2 separate regions of the Homo sapiens genome follow, and region 1 is linked to region 2. Evidence: fine-mapped expression QTL. A gene starts in region 2. The other region holds a variant in brackets. All regions are shown on one strand. Distances are between the middles of the regions.

What was found. PIP is the estimated chance that this variant, and not a neighbour inherited with it, causes the effect.
Region 1: its variant is fine-mapped to the expression of PXDC1 in tibial nerve (GTEx, PIP 0.99).

The regions. Positions count from the first base shown.
Region 1 is chr6:3,882,148-3,885,047 of GRCh38, forward strand. No RefSeq gene overlaps it. Among named protein-coding and RNA genes, the nearest start is that of TGILR, 28 kb to the right of the region's middle. The variant A/G (reference allele first, on the strand shown) is at 1,098.
Region 2 is chr6:3,750,256-3,753,155 of GRCh38, forward strand. PXDC1 (PX domain containing 1) reads right to left here and starts at 1,458. Exons shown (of 5, transcript NM_183373.4): 1 at 1,021-1,458. The coding sequence starts at 1,276. RefSeq lists silencers at 682-761, 1,512-1,751, 1,802-1,971.

The sequences.
Region 1 (2,900 bases), 130 kb after region 2:
TGTTTGTATAGATTATAGATTAACTAAAAGTATTCCTTATGGGAAACAAGGGATGGGCCGAAATAAAGGGATGGGTTCTGGCTAGTAATCTGCAGCAGGAGCATGTCCTTAAGGCACAGATCACTCATGCTATTGTTTGTGGTTTAAAAACGCCTTTAAGCGGTTTTCTGCCCTGGATGGGCCAGGTGTTCCTTGCCCCCATTCCGGTAAACCCACAACCTTCCAGCATGTGCGTCATGGCCATCACGAGCATATCACAGTGCTGCAGAGATTTTGTTTATGGCCAATTTCGGGGCCAGTTTATGGCCAGATTTTGCGGGGGGGCCTGTTCCCAACACTGCTTGATCCCATACTCTCTCCAACCTCACACATAGCATGCACTGAAAGCAAACTCACAAAGTCAGCAGCATGGTACATTTCCTTTAATTTAGGAAAGGAACTGAGTCCAGACTAAATGAGGAACCTCATGCCTCTCTGGTGTCTCAATTTCCCACCTAACTATTGGGATCTGCAAAGTCAACATTTTTAAAGAATCACATGCTCCTTGTATAGACGGAAGGAACACACCAGAAGAACCTGGACAGGTTTTAATCCTTTGAGAATTAAAGTCCCAAACTGCACCAAAAAAGATAATTCTGCAGTCTTTCTGGAAGCTTCTCTCCTCATAAATCTGTTGCCATTTAACAGGGTGATGAACATGACATTGATTCTAGGGTTTCCAATAGACACAGTGGGTCATAGGTACAATTTTGCTCCTTTCACTCCGGGAGTCTTAGGCACAGCTGTGTCCAAAAGGATTTGCTGCCCTTTATTTGGGTTTGCAAGGATGTTGTATTTCTCTGCATTGCAGATTTCCACAGCTTTGTGAGCAAGCCATAATTATTTCCAGACAAGATGCTGGCTCAGATGACTGCCTCATCCCTAATGTGGCTTCTCAGTTTCGCAAGAGGAAAACCCAGAACTTTCCTCCCTGTGCCTTCTGTGCCTCCTGGTAACGTGGCAAAGAGAAATCACAACTAGGAAAGAAGTCGTCATTTTAGGCGATGATAAAGCATTCCCAGAATAAAATAACTTGTTCAAATTCCAAACCCACATGT[A/G]TAGAAACTATAATTTTTGTTTTGTTCTGTTGTTTTTTTGAGACAGAGTCTTGCTCTGTTGCCCAGGCTGGAGTGCAATGGTGTGATCTCGGCTCACTGCAACCTCCGCCTCCCGGCTTCAAGTGATTCTCCTGCCTCAGCCTCCCGAGTAGCTGGGATCACACACACATGCCACCACGCCTGGCTAATTTTTTATATCTTTAGCAGAGACAGGGTATCACCATGTTGGCCAGGCTGGTCTCAAACTCCTGACCTCATGATCCACCCGCCTCAGCTTCCCAAAGTGCTGGAATTACAGCTGTGAGGCACCACGCCCGGCCAAAACTATAATTTTCTGTGTGGATGGCAACTTTCTTCCACAAACAGAATAAGGGGTGATTGTGCCAATGGTTTCTGCTCTTGAAATATACCTGGGTCTGGAGGCAAGTCTGCAATGATAGAACATTCAGCAGCCCATCTGTGTGTGAAAAGCCTGCCATACGGCAAAGAACGAGCAAACTGGAGAACCACACCAACCCATTTCCATTCCCCAGCCCTCTGAAAACCCACAAAGAGAAGTTCAGTTGGGCAGCTAGAGCTTGCTGGGAACTAAGGAGTCCACTGAGTGACCATAAGCACTGAAGAGCTTGCATTTGCATTGGCTTTCCTTAAAGATTTGGTTTTAAGTAGCAAAACAAATACAAATTCAAGAGACATCTTGCTTAAAAAAAAAAAGGTGGAGGGGAAGGTGGTATTTATATTGCCACGTCAATTTTTTAATGCACTTTAAGATGAAAGAAATGTCCATTAAAACAGGGAATAATAACCAGTCCCTAAAGATCCATTTGCAGCTCTTTTCACTTCCTCCAGAGTGAAAGAAATTCCAGTTTCATGATGTCACTGCCTTAGCCAGATCTTTCTGAGGATGCAGCTGCTCAGATGCACACAGGTTCTGTTTGTGCAGTTTCCTCCTGTGTTTCCCAGAGGCGAATGAGGAGGACGGGCCATGGCAACATTCAACAAGCTGGCCTCACCCAGCACATACACACCTGCCATCTCTGCAGTTCTGACCTTGGCTAGCCTCACTCCACTGTCTAGCTTTAAGCCCCATCTTCATCTTTGAGCAGTGGCTGGAAGTTACAGCTGCAGCAAATGTGCAGAATATGAAAAGAATTTAGAATAGAATTAGACCAGAAACGATGTTGTTAAATCCAGCCATGTGCTACAGAGACCTGGCAAGGTTGCAGGCATGTCTAAGTGTACAGAAGCAGGTGACATATGACCGAATGTAGGGGCCAGGACTAGGAGCTGACCTTTGCAAGACAGTGACTTAGCAAGTACAAAATCAACAAAAATCATCCTGACCTCTCTACTTCTAACTCCTGCACCCAAGCTAACATCCCTGCTCATGATGCAACCTCGGCCAGCTGGTAAGGAGGCCCCAAAAATTCACTTGAAAATTCAACTCCAAATTTATTCGGAATCTTTTTTTTTTAGTGGGAAAATGACTTGTAATCCTGAAAAGAGACAGCATTAAGTGTAGAAATGATGAAGATGAATCAAATCTATTTCTGATATCTTGGGGTTAGGAGGTAATCTGTGGATATTTGGCCTTTTCCTTATTTGTTACATTTAAGAGGATTTTGTGTGCTGGAGTGTCAGTCAAACTTGTAATTCTAACTTAAACTGTGGAGCTAAAAAGTTGATGTAGACTATAATTTTATGTTGATATTTTAAGAGAATTTAAAATTTATTATATGTCTAGATTTTGTTATATTTACAGGAATTATTACTTAAGTACTTGGGAAGATTTTTCGTTGTTGT
Region 2 (2,900 bases):
TTCAGTAACTTGGCCCCAAGCTTTCAGGAGGTCTCTGCTTAGAGGAGGACTGCAGAAAAGAAGGCTGCTGGGCCACTGTCCCAATGTTCCGAGCTACAGGTGGTCACCCATGGAGGGGGGTGGGACCTGCTCGGAAGTCCTCCAGTCTTCCCGCCCCTTCTCCCCTCCCGGCCCTCCCAGGCGGCCCCTCTCCTCGGCCTGCCCCCTCCACCCCGCAATTCTTCCCGTCTCAATTCCAGTCCCTCTCTCTTGCGTCCTCCCGGCTTCCACCCCCTCAGCCTGGCCTCCAAAAGAAAGATCGGGCAGAGCGGTAGGAAAAGGGAAGCCACCGCGGTTTCTGAAAACAAGAATTCCCGCGAGCCAGGACGGTCACGAGGCCGGGGAGGAGGCGGCGCAGCTGATCAAACGCGAATGGGGACCAGCCCTGGCGGGGGTGCGGGGGGGCCCTGGCTGTCCGCGGCAGCCGCGGGCGGGGCGGCCGCTCCGAGGAGGGACGGAAGGGCTGCGTGGCACCTCGCGCTCGAAGACCAGGGGCGCGCCCTCCGCGGGGAGAACTCGGGGCGGCGGCCAGACCCGACGCGACCCCCGGCTCGGACCCTGCAGTTAACTGCTCCCAGACGCTTTCCCAGTGCGCCCGCCCGCCGGCCCTCGGGAGGTACCGGGCAGGGGGCTAGGGCCGGGCCGACCCTGTGAGCCGCTCAGCCCCGGGCGCCCCCGCCCTCCTCGGAAGTGACTCGTCCTCAGGGAGAGTCCGGCGCCCGCCCTGCCGGCCTCGGCCCCTTTCCCGCCCCATTTGGCTCCTCCGCCGGGGGCGCCCCCAGGCTGGGCAGGCTGGCTCCCCGTCCCCCTAACCCCGCCGCCCGGGCACCCCTCGTCTGCGGGCGCGGGGTCCAAGTGTCCCCTGTCCAGGGCGGGCAGAAAGGAGAAGTCGCAATCTCGGTTGAAGTCTCTTCCCCGCCTCCTTCGTGCACTTCAAGGCTGCCTCGGCCCCGCGCCCCTCCCGCGTCCCCGGCCCCGCACCTTGCCGCAGCGGCCCCTGCGCCAGTTCGGACCGGTCCTCGGGAAAGGCGTCGCGCAGGCGCTGCCACAGGCGGCCCAGGTCCGCCAGGCTGCGGTGCAGGTAGAGCACGCTGCGGTCCGACCACTCCGTGCGGATCTCGAAGAACTCCTCTTCGTCGCCGCGCCGGCTGACGATGAGCCTGCGGATGCCGTTCACCCAGCAGCCGCGCACGAACATGTTCACGAGCGACGTGCCCTCAAACACCGCCGAGGCCATGTCGCACGCATGCCCCCGCCAAGGGCTCCCCAGCCCCGCCGCCCGCCCGCCCGCAGGAGGCGCGCCCCGGCCGGGGTCGTCCCGGGTCTGTCCGTGGCCGGGGTCGTCCGGGGTCGGCCCGTCACTCCAAGGAGGCTGCGTATGGCCCGCGTTCGGGGCAGCGGGGCGGCGCGGCGGCGAGTGGCTCGGGCCGGCCGGGCGCGGCTTTATAAGGCGCTTCCCATCGCGGGCGGCGCGGTAGTCGACGTCGAGGTTAGGCCGCGTCCGCCTCCCGCCCGCCTCCCGCGGAACGGGCGCCGCGGGCCGCTCTGGAAAGGAAGAGGTCCGGCTGGCCGCGCCCCCGCCGCCTCCGCAGAGACCGCGCTGCCGCGGCCACGAGAACCCCCGGAGCCGGGAGCCGGGCCGAGTCCCAAGCGCTCGCCCCCGCCTCGCGCCCCCCGCGCCTCCTCCCTCGCGGCCCCGGAGCCGCAGGTCGGTGACTGGACCAGCCGGGAAGGGAGGCGGGGCGGGCCCTGCTTGCCAGGCGCTCGGCGCAGACTTTTTTCTCTTTCCGTTTCGCGATCCTCGGGACCTCCCAGGGCTAGGAGCTGCGCGCCCCACCCGGCCCGCGAGGGGATGGCAACTACCCGGGGTCCGGAGGCGGGGCTGCGAGTGTCGGGGCGGGGGGCGCGGGCCGGGTCGAGCACCGCCCCGACGAGGGCCCAGGCCAGTCCGGCCCGCCCCGGGTTCCCTCCGTGCCTCAGGTCCCCTCCGTGCCCCGCGTCCTCCCGCGCATTCCGGTCATGCCTCAGCCGCGCCAAGGCCTGGGACACGGCCGGACAGACCGCGGGGCAGCCCTCGGAGAAGTGGGAAGAGGGGAGAAAACAGTGGCGAAAAGAAGGTCTCCTGGGAAGGAGCGCCCTGGGAAGCTGGACGCGGTGGGTGCTCTTGAGGGGCCTCAGGAGTGGACTTGGGGAAACCGCCCGCCCTGAAAACTGACTCAGCGGCGCGTTACTGAGGCCGTTCCTAGTTGGAAGAGAATTAATAGCACTTGTTTGAGAATTACAAGTTAGTTCCAGAAATGAATCGAGTGACCTCACAGCCCGTAGGCAGGGGTGGGAGAGCCAGGGTGAGCCCCTCACCTCACCCCGCCCCCGCCCCGGCAGCGCTCTGGAAAGCCTCAAAGCCCAGCGCTGCGCGGAAATGTTAGAGGCCCAAGGCAGGTGGCCTGTCTGGACTCAGACCCGACCCAGATGTCCCCCCAGGTCCCTACCACTCAGTCCCACCTGCCTCGACTCAGTCCCGACCCAGATGACCACCCCCCCCCCGCCCCCACCACGACCAACTTTTATTCCGACTGCGCCAGTGACTTGCAGATAGCATAGCTTCAAATTTCCTCACCTGGTCTGGGGCGGTGAACAGGTCAAGATGGAGAGTGTCAAGAGAGACTTTTGCTTTGTCTATGATGTTTTTATATACACTTGCTAATTAAATGAACGCATATGTTTCCTGTGTAATTTTGTATAGGGGAATAGGGGCCGTGGGAACTGGAAGTAAACAGCCAGTGTGCCAGCAGCTCTTGACTCTAGGTGGTGGGAATAAGTGCCGTTGTAACCACAGTACCAGCCCAAACGGGGCTTACTCT